Regions from separate parts of the Homo sapiens genome. Here region 1 is linked to region 2. A link means that fine-mapping ties the variant in region 2 to the plasma level of a protein whose gene starts in the linked region. Region 2 holds a variant in brackets. A gene starts in the other region. All regions are shown on their reverse strands.

Region 1 (5,372 bases), not on the chromosome of region 2:
GGAAGGGATCTAAGGGTCGTTAGAGTCAACCATGTTTACTGAACTTTTCCTCATGTAGTCAGTACTTATATTAGTTTTCCGTGGATGCTGTAACCAACTACCACAAATTTAGTGGATTAAAACAACACAAATTTATTATCTTACGGATGGTTGTTCAGAAGTCTAAAACAGTCTTGACTTTTTTGGGCAAGAGTCAAGTTATCAGCAGGGTTGTATTCTTTTCTGGAGGCTCTAAGGGATAATCTTTTTCCTTGCCATTTCCAATTTCTAGATGCCTCCCATATTCCTTGTCTCATAGCCCTTCTATATTTTCCCATCTTCATAGTCAGCAACAGGAAGTCGAGTTCTTCTCATATTGCATTAATCTGACCTCCTCTTATGCCTCCTTCTTCCACATTTAAGGGCCCTCGTGATTATATTGGGCATACCCAGATAATCTGAAATAATCTTCCTATTTTAAGGTTACCTGATTAACAATCTTAATTCCATCTGCAACCTTAAATCCCCTTTGCCATGTGAGGTAACATACACAGGTTCCACTGATTAGGAACTGGAAAAGACTGTTTCTTAAGGGGAAGGGGATTGGAATATTATTATGCCTACAACAATGATTGCAAGCAAAATTTTAACATTGTCTAAAAGGAGTTTGAGTGTATGTAGATATAATACATAAGACAACTACAACCTAAAGAGTTGAGGATAAAGGGATTTGATGTGGTAGTAAAGCTTCTGTATTCGAACTGAAGTGGTAATGTATGGACTCTAGGTAGAAGGTGAAAAGTTAAGTATGTATATTGTATTCCCTAGAATACCAATTTTAAAAGCTTCACAAAGAGATATAGTCAAAAGAACACATAGATAAAATGGAATACTGAAAATACTGGCATTCAGTGGATAGAGACCAAGAATTCAACTAACATCCTACAAGGCACAGGACAGCCCCAATAAAGAATTATCCAGCCCCAAAATGTTAGTAGTTATAATGTTGAAAACTCCTGCCCAGGTTGAGAAACTCTGCCCTAGCTAATACAATGGCTCACCTTTACTATGGGTTTCCAAACCTTATACCTTAGTTTTAGAGAAACAACTCTTCACACCTCCCCATACTCATATTTTAATGATTTCCATACTATTTAATTAGGTCAAATAATTACAGTAGCAGGTTCAACTAGAATTATTTTGGGTACCAAATACCACTGTTCTGGAGGGAGCCTCAGTGTGTATGGTACTGGAGATAAGCCCATTAACCACCAGCTTTCAGCATATGGATGAGAGTCAGAGAAACTCGAGAGTATCCCTACTTTCATGAGTTGGTTGAACACAGGTTGGTTAGGAGGACTTTTATGTGGAAATATATATGTGCATATGTATATTTATGTTTTATTCTTTTCTCTAATGATAGCATTTTAAATGCTACGTTATTTAAAATTTATTTCGTGTAGCTTCTGTAGATACTTATTACAATTGAATATTTTAGATGCACAGCTGTAGAAAGGTCTTTAATTCTCTGATGATTAATTTCTTTTCATTGATTAATTAAATTGTATTATTTATTTGGCATAGTTTTTCAAATTTGGGAAATTGCATATGACAATCCTTTATCACTTGTAAGTACTGAAATATTTCTCAAACTTTACAAAGTTACAAATAGAATTAAATGGGAAATTCGATAAGAGAGAATTAAAAATTAATTTAAAAGAGCTCCCGAATTCTGAATCTTTTGTCTTAAAAATTCTAAGGGCAGATCTAAAAATACCTCTTTCCCTATAGTATAATATAGTATATGTATTCCACTATATGATAATATCTATAACTATATATCTATAGATAAAATGTATATTATACTCCTGCCTTGCAGGGGGCTCAGACTACCCAGTAGGCATTTTGGTAACTGTAGCTGTTAGTATCCAGTTGGAGAATTCAGTACCCACATGTTTGCATGGAAGGTTAAGAAACCCAATTGATCTTTGTACAGATTAATACCATAATGGTTTTTTAAACTCTTAACTTTTCCAAAATGAAAGTGGAATGCCATTCCTCAAAATTTACCTAAAAATTTTAGGGCTATGTTCAAAAAATATTATGTACCATTGATCTTGAACATACATGTGCCTGCTGAAAAATGGATCTCAAAGGACACCACTTTTATGGTCCCGGACATATGTGGTGAAGGGCAGGTAGAGCCTGCATGAGTGTGGTCAACAGTGGGATGGCTCTTCTCTCTCGCCTGGGCTCCATCTCCTCCCTCTGCTTATTTACGTATTTATTTATTTCTCTCTCTCTCTCTCTCTCTAACCATCTCCTCTATGTAGGTAGATATTTCGGCGTGAACAGACGCCCTGGCTCAGTTCCCCTTGCCTTCTGCTGTATGCTGGTCCCAGAGAGCCCGAGTCCGGGTCTCCACGCTTTATTTGGCAGGGGGCGCGCGGGTTCCGGAGCTGTCCAGCACCTCCTGGCCAAGTTCTCTGCGCTCTCCGCGCCCGGGAAGCTCTCCGCGCCGGGGAAGCTCTCCAGCGCCCCGCCCCCGGCAGGGAACCTCTCCACCAGGACACCCGGGGCTTCCCAGGCTCGCCATCCGTCCCCACCAGTCTCTACCTACTTTGCCCAGCTCCACCTCGGCAGTGCAGCGTGTTTTGGTGGCCTTCCTCCGCACGCCCTGGAGGGGGAGTGCCCTGCACCCCGGGGCTGCTCCGGAGCCCAGTGCACGAGTGCACATGGGCTTCCCTCCTTTGCTTAAAGGGCAGGCGAGCGCTACTCGCTCCAGCCTTGCCTCCTGCAGCTGGGTGGTCTTTTTTCTCTCCTGTCTTTCAAGACACGCGCCCGAAATCGAGGGGTGAGAGCAAAGACCGCCCATCAACTTAGCACCTTGGATTTAGAGCTTTCAATCCCGAAAGGAGGTTGGCATTGCCCGGGTCATCGAGAGAGGGAGGGAGAAGAGCTGAGGCTGCAACGGCTCCTGGGCTCCCTAGACCGGGTTTGGCATCCAGGAGACCGTGCGGGAGACCGACGCTGAGCGCCGGCCTCGCCCTCGGCGGCCCCTCCCTCCTCCTTACCCCGCCTCCCCCGGCCCGCCCCTCCCTCCCCGGAGGAGCAGTCTCTCCGCGCGTCTCCCGGAGCTTTCTCCATTGTCTCTGCCTTTACAACAGGTTCGGGCGGCGGGGAAGACGGGGGGGTGCGGGGCCGCCCCAGCCCGGGCTTTCTTGGGGCCGCCCCCCTTCTACCGGGTGTGCGAGTCTTTGGCTGCTTTTATTCGGCTCGGGAGCTAATTCCCCGACGGAGCCGCGCCGGGGCGAGTCCGACCCCTCCCTCCGGGCCCCCTCCGGGCCGCGCTGCCGCCTCGGCCCTGCGTGTGGGAATGATGTGCGCATTGGAGGGTCTAAGTTCTTCACGCGCCTGGGGAGGCCTCCCTTTTCTTTCTTAGGCAACCAAAGCGTATTAATCCTACTGATCAGTAAATCCGAGGCAGCAGCAGGAGAGACAAACGTTATTTTCCCGCTTGATTCCAAGAACCTCTTCGATTTTTATTTTTATTTTTAAAGAGGGAGACGATGGACTGAGCTGATCCGCACCATGGAGTCTCGGGTCTTACTGAGAACATTCTGTTTGATCTTCGGTCTCGGAGCAGGTGAGTGGCCGCAGAGCTGGGGCTGGGGAAAGGGATGGCTCCCGCCTCGGGGCAGCATGGGCTGGCTGGGGAAGCCTCGCTTTTCCCGGACCCAAAGTAGGTCTGGAGTGGGAAGCTTGGAGTAAGGGGGCGGGTTTGGATATGGATTTTTTTTTTTTCTGTGCTTGCCTTGGAGACCGCGAGGCGGATCACGCCCCTAGTCCAGGGTCGGAGGGCTGAGGGGGAACTTTGCAGAGAGAAGGGTTTAAAGGAGGTCATGGAAACGGGACTGGGTGCTCCGCTATTTAAAGCTTGGCTGCTGATCTCAGGTAAGGCTCTCGGCGGAGGAGGAGGCAGTCGCCTCTCATCTTCAGTTCCCAATATTGTCGCGAAAACGCGGTTCTTTGCTGCCCTGGAGGAAGAGACTTGCATTTTGATGGAGCTTTTCCTTTTTCTCTCTCCCACCTCATACCCCTCACCAGTTTGGGGGCTTGGTGTGGACCCTTCCCTACAGATTGACGTCTTAACAGAGTTAGAACTTGGGGAGTCCACGACCGGAGTGCGTCAGGTCCCGGGGCTGCATAATGGGACGAAAGCCTTTCTCTTTCAAGGTATGCCCGGCGTGCTGCATCCCCACTGTGATTTCAGTTCCGATAACCCCGGCAGGAGTTGCTCTTGCCGCTTGTCCTAACTTTGTATTGCCTCATGGATGACAGTACTTTAGCTGAGGTGTAGAAGGGCCAGTGTGAGACACATATCCCTATCTCTTTTAAGTGGTTTTTTCTCCCCTGCCTCACCCTTCTCCTTCGTACTTTGTACTCTTGCCAGTTCTAATGGATAGTCCCTTAATTACTGAGCAGAAACTCCTATGGCAGATGGTTGATTTTAGAATCTGGGGAACAATGAATTATAACACAAACGCCTCGTTTGGGTGAAATTGATTTAGGTAGGAAAAAGGATAGCTTAATCTTAGTTAAGACACTGATCTCTGAAAGTTTCAGGTACGATGGTGCCCTGCTTGGAGGAATTGTTTTATGGGGGTAGCTTTCTGGAAAAATTAATGCCTCTGAATATTTTTACTTACTGCATATCACAGTCGCAGTATATTTGAGGCAAAATTTATCTTTGAAAGACCCTCATTCTTCCTTCATCCACCAATAACAAGAGAAAGGGAATAATGGTCTCAAAAGTATTTTGGAAAGATTTCAAGTAAATGTTAATCTAGAAGTGTATCTCATATTATCATTAATTGTGTACTTACGATTTTACAACTTTTTTTTGAAGTCAATGGATATTGGCTGGGCACAAATGTCTACATCTCAAATTATATTTAAATGTGTTGTGCAGTCAGAAGCAAATTCCAATGCAGCAAACCTTCAACTTTGATTAGAGCTTTTGAGGATTGCTTGTTTGTGGAAAGTTGCCGTAATAAGAGCTTCTAAAAGGTAGCTAAACGTGTACAGACAGACTAGATTCATGTATGGTGAAGAATACATGAAGGCAAAAGAGAATGGAGTTTGGTTTAACATATCTAATGGACTAAAGCTTCTTGCCCTACCTCACCCAGATTTTTGTTGTTGTTGTTGTTATTTTGGTGCCATGGCTTTGAAAGTGCAATTCATAATTACTAAAGAGTTGGATATGCAAAAGGAAACCACTTCGGAAAATATGCTACCAAGAAATAGAAATAAAATAAAACTTGAGTGTTTCTGTAGTGGTGTTGTTGCCTGATATAGCCAGTATGTGTCACCATGGACACTAAAACCAA
Region 2 (5,372 bases):
TGCAGTTACAACATTTACCACTTTATTATAAAGGCTACAACTCAGAAACAGCCAAATGGAAGACATGTATAGGACAAAGAAAGATGTGGGGGTGGAAGAGGTTGTATGGAGCCTCCATGCCCTCTCTGGATGCCATTGGTTGACTGGGGGAATTAATTCCCTGGTGCTTCCAGCCTGCAAGATGAGCTCCTTCAACCAGCAAGTCCCCAGTCAAAAGGGTGCACGGGGTGTAGCTGGAAGTTGAGCAGATGGTAGTTTGCATGGATGAGATAAAGCCCCAGGGGACAGGGCAGCTACACATGAATCCAAATAGTCTAATCTCCAAAAGGAACAGAGAGTGGATTCATACAACATACCAAGCCCGCCCCCTAAATGCATCCCACTCAGGTCACTTATAAAGCTCCAAGGATGGGCCAAGAACACAAGCTCTACACCAGGGAAACTTGGAGGCATCAGAAGGACAGAATAAGACCCAGGTTCATAGGGGATGAAAAATCGAACAGAGAACCGTCTCAGGGCATTTGTGAAGGTCCAAGGATGGAGAGAAGAAGCGCTGGCTTACAAGTGGGTGAAGTTCTGCTATACCACAATGGAGGCTGAGGCTAGCAGGGAAACAACTATTCGTCTCTGAAGCAGGCTGCGGGCTTTTTGCAGATCCAGTAATTGTCAACGTCACATCGATTGTCGTTCCAGCCACTGCCACTAAATTCCGCACAGTCTTCATTCCCGCTATTGTTGGGTTCTCCACTGTTCCAGTACCGCTGGAAGCTGCAAAGCCCATGCAGAATGTGAGCCTCTGCCCTGCCCAGTAGATGAGCCACACTCCTACCTTCTGTAATATTGATGCTTTAACATCTGCCCTACATGTGTATGCTGGACATGCATTGCTCTCCACACCTCATAATATGCCCGAGTCATGTTGCCTTCAGTTCCTGCCTCTCTTGCTGCATCCCAGCCTTGGGAGGACTCCTACTGAGGCTGTGATTTTCTTTTTTATCCTTTGTTCTTTTCTTTCTCTTTTTCTTTTTTTGAGACAGATTCTCGCTCTGTTGCCAGGCTGGAGTGCAGTGGCATGATCTTGGCGGCTCACTGCAACCTCCGCCTCCTGGGCTCAAGTGATTCTCCTGCCTCAGCCTCCTGAGTAGCTGGGACTACAGGTGCACGCCACCACACCCAGCTAATTTTTGTATTTGTAGTAGAGACGGGGTTTCACCGTGTTGGCCAGCATGGTTTTGATCTCTTGACCTCGTGATCTACCCGCCTTGACCTCCCAAAGTGCCGGAATTACAGGCGTGAGCCACCGCGCCTGGCCGAGAGTGTGATTTTAAAATACAAACCAACCAGTCTGGGGTCTGTACTGCCAACCACCTGCCTTATTGGGCTCTTGCACTCCAAGCCACTATCTTTCTGCCCTAATCACCCCAAGGCCAGGTGTCAGGCCGCTAGGCAGCCTCTATGCCCCAGAGCCCACAAAATGCTTCATATCTGCCCATCTGAAGCCTGCTTGCCTGGCCTTGCCCTTTTCTCCCCATGCAAACCATAATAAAAGCTCTGGCCCACAGTCCCCTCCATGACTTTCCCTCACGACAGACCCTGCTGCTTCCCCAGCGGCCCCCTGCTGTGAAATGTGCGCCCTCTAGGAACCTGTGGGTAGGATAAGCTACTCACTTTGTGTAAATGGCAATTGTCTCCTGAGCTGGTGGCCTTACTAGACTTCAGACTTCCTATTAATACACTGTATTTTAACACACCTACCCACAGGGCAAGCTCCTCCTGCAGCTCTGCTGGTGGAATTCTTGGCACCTTTCATCCTGTCTGGAGGTGGGTATGAAGACCACCTTCCTCAACTCAGTAAAACCCCAGACTCTTAGTCCTATGGGGTCAGGGAGGTTGGGGGGGACCCCCAGGGAAAGCTCAAGTCAGAGTTGCAGGAACCCAGCCCGACTGGATACAGTGTCCCTTTCTCCCAGAATCTACCTGGGTGACAGAGGTGAGCCGTCCACCCATTGCCACGTGCCTTCCTGATTTAGGTCTGAAAGTCCCATCCAGGAGAAGCGGTTACTCCTGGAAGTCTGCAGCTGTAGGAAGTTCTGGAGGGTAGAGGAGGAGTCAGGAGGGAGCTCTGCTTCCCATTTTCCAGGTTCCACCTCCCCGTCTCTTGGCAGAAAGTTCTGCTTTCAAGTTAACCTGCAGTTTTCTGATATAGCAGGTCCTGAGCCTCCTCATGTCTGAGCCCCTCTCACATCTGTATCCCCATGGCATGTGTGTCCTGACATGCAGGCACGCATGCACAGCTGGCCTCTCCTCATGTGCTCCTGTGAATGCTGCATGTTTATCTATTTTGCATGTCCACATGAATTTACTCCTGACTGGGTTTCATGTACTGGAGCCACATTGGACCCACTACTAATTGCTGGTCCAGCACATCTCCTTTCAGCTCTGCACTGAGTGACAGCACATCACAGCTTGAAATCAGCCGCAGTGGAAATATTTACACTGGGGAAATTGGCAAACACAACACATCAGGAATTTTCTCTCCGGAGAGCTGGCCGTTAAACACCTGCAGCATGCTGTGGTGGTTTGCTTACATTTGACGTTTCCCCCAAATATTCACATGTGTTCAGATCTGGTTTGTATTTGCTTGAAGGGTACCTGGGACCCCTTCATTCATATCCTTCTCTTCCCATCTTTCCAAATAGAGCAAAGCCCCTCTTCTGCAAAATCCTCTCTGAGCACCTCCTCCCCAGTTGGCCAGAAGCCATGCCCCAGGCCAGGACGAGGACCCCCACCACGTGTACCTGCTCCTCAGCAGTTTTGATTACGACGAGCTGGGCCCTCACTTCCTGGCAGGCGGTGACGGAGT[C/T]GTGCCAGTTCCGCTGGGAGTTAGACATGAAGTAACAGTTTCCTTGGAAGAATGTCCAGTCCTTGGGACAGTGGCGGCACAGGCGTTCTGTTGGGGGAGGCTGGTCAGGGCTGGGCTCAGATTAGGTTGTCCATATTCCCATATCTGCCCAGCCTTCAAGCCCTTGAAAATCAGGGCCCTTCCTTGACTGTCCATGTTGGGTGGACCGCTTGGAATGGGGAGAGACCATTCCTCTCCCTACTTCCCAAGACTCTCCCTGATCCCCAGGAGAACCCAGGAGTCCTGGCTCCATCTCTTCCAGACTGGGAGAATTAGCAGCTTTAGAGCTCAGAACAGAAGGCAGCGGATTGGTTGAACTGAGTGTCTACTGTGTGCCTGGCCCACTGTGAACACCAAGTGCAATGATCGCAGTTACCCCGTGTTCTCATTTCACAGGGGAGGAAACTGAGGCTCAGGCAGGGTTGGTAACTCAAGTAAAGTCACATCACACAGAGACCATCTCAGGCCCAAGGACCCTTGATGTGCAGGAACTCACCAAATGCAGTCTTCAAATCGGTCAGTTCTTGATAGATTTGCTGCTGCTTGGACTGGTCTGGCAACTCACCCACTGCAGCCTTCAGCTGGGTCAGCTCCTGGTAGATCTCCTGCAGCTTGGATTTCTCTGGCAACTCACCCACTGCAGCCTTCAGCTCCGTCAGCTCCTGGTAGATCTCCTGCAGCTTGGATTTCTCTGGCAACTCACCCACTGCAGCCTTCAGCCGGGTCAGCTCCTGGTAGATCTCCTGCAGCTTGGATTTCTCTGGCAACTCACCCACTGCAGCCTTCAGCCGGGTCAGCTCCTGGTAGATCTCCTGCAGCTTGGATTTCTCTGGCAACTCACCCACTGCAGCCTTCAGCCGGGTCAGCTCCTGGTAGATCTCCTGCAGCTTGGATTTCTCTGGCAACTCACCCACTGCAGCCTTCAGCTGGGTCAGCTCCTGGTAGATCTCCTGCAGCTTGGATTTCTCTGAGAGCTCACCCACTGCAGCTTTAAGCTGGGTCAGGTTCTGGTAGATTGCGTCTTGCTCGGATTGTTCCTGACTTAGGGAGCTGGGGACCTTGGACACTGGGCCAAGAAGAAAAGGAACTGCAATTATTAAACACCTACTGTGTGCCAAGCCCTGAACTGAGCCCCATAGAGACATCATTTGTGAGAGCCAAGGTCTCAGTTAATCCCCTTTGAAGATGAGGAAAACTGACACCTGGAGAAGGCAGCACAGAAGGCCAAGGAGAGCCAGGTTCTTCCCCTCCTCCTCCTCCCTCTCCTGTCCTGCTCTAGAGTGGGGAGGGGCTGTGGGAGAGGCCCCTACAGACCCCCAGGGACAACATCTTGGCTCTCAGTCCCACCTCCCTCCCAGACCTGGCCACTCCAGGCTCTGTTCATAGCCAAAAGGCCAGGCCTGGGGACCCCAGACCCTCAGAACCTGCCCCTGACCTTGGACAAGGATGGCCACCAGGACCCCAGCCAAGAGCATGAAGGAGAGGAGTTGCAGCACCAGGGCGCCATGGCCAAGACACCCTGAGAGAGGATACATGCGTCAGCCTGCCAGTGTTCCCACCTGAGCCTGGCCCAGGGAGAGCCTGGCCTAATCCCTCAGCACCCCAGGACCCAGGAACCCCAGCCCCAGCCCCCTCCACTCCAACACCTGGGAATCCAGGCCCTAGCTCTAACCTCCCCAGGACCCAGGAACCCCATCCCCAGCCTCTCCCTCCCCAAGTCCCAGGAGTTTAGGTCCCAACCCCCACCTCCCCAGGTCCCAGGAACCCAGGTACCTGCGTCCACCTCCCCAGTGGAACAGGAATGAAAAGAAATTAAAGAATGTGTAAGCAAAAACTCAGTTGTATGTAAGAAAACCCAATTCCCCCTGAGGAAGAGAAAGAGGTGGAATCCTTTAAAAATTAACTGCCTTTTTGGCCAGGCATGGTGGCTCACACTTGTAATCCCAGCACTTTGGGAGGCTGAGGCAGGCAGATCACAAGGTCAGGAGATCAAGACCATCCTGGCTAACACAGTGAAACCCTATCTCTACTAAAAATACAAAAAATTAGCCGGGCGTGGTGGTGGTGGGCGCCTGTAGTCCCAGCTACTCGGGAGGGTGAGGCAAGAGAATGGCATGAACCTGGGAGGCAGATCTTGCAGTGAGCCGAGATGGCGCCACTGCATTCCAGCCTGGGTGACAGAGCAAGACTCTGTCTCAAAAAAAATAAATAAATAAATAAAAATAAAAACTAAATAAATAAAATAAAAAAGAATTAACTGCCTGTTTTTCTGTGTGTGGCTAGTGAGCCTTATCTCTCCCTTTCCCAGGCATTGTGAAGACCCTGTTTCTCTAGCTGTGCAGCTGCAAGGTCACTAGGCAGATAAACTCAAGTTGTAAAACATGTTTTTCCTTGAAAAATAAGAAATGACGTAATGCATGTCTCAATTGAATAACTATCTTTGTTTCTCGCTTCTGTAATATGCTTCCCC

Which allele goes with the higher level. Positions count from the first base shown, and alleles are read on the strand shown. Strength reflects both the effect of a copy and how common the allele is.
For the plasma level of the protein whose gene starts at base 3,125 in region 1, C is the high allele of the variant in region 2 and T is the other (weak association).

Evidence for each region. A credible set is the group of variants that fine-mapping cannot tell apart. PIP is the posterior inclusion probability: the model's chance that the variant is causal. The UK Biobank Pharma Proteomics Project read protein levels with antibody pairs (Olink). The fine-mapping took linkage between variants from a reference panel, not from the people measured, so its PIPs are less certain.
Region 1: it holds the start of NELL2, and the variant in region 2 is the best candidate, but not a certain one, in a credible set for the plasma level of the NELL2 protein (UK Biobank, PIP 0.64).

Annotation. Positions count from the first base shown.
Region 1 is chr12:44,874,068-44,879,439 of GRCh38, reverse strand. It overlaps NELL2 (neural EGFL like 2), which reads left to right and starts at 3,125. Exons shown (of 20, transcript NM_001145108.2): 1 at 3,125-3,625; 2 at 4,087-4,215. The coding sequence starts at 3,571. RefSeq lists enhancers at 2,001-2,500, 2,501-3,002.
Region 2 is chr19:7,764,234-7,769,605 of GRCh38, reverse strand. CLEC4M (C-type lectin domain family 4 member M) reads right to left here. Exons shown (of 7, transcript NM_014257.5): 3 at 4,338-4,421; 4 at 3,399-3,968; 5 at 2,799-2,950; 6 at 1,978-2,090; 7 at 1-768. The coding sequence ends at 618. Among named protein-coding and RNA genes, the nearest start is that of CLEC4M, 3.7 kb to the right of the region's middle. The variant C/T (reference allele first, on the strand shown) is at 2,864.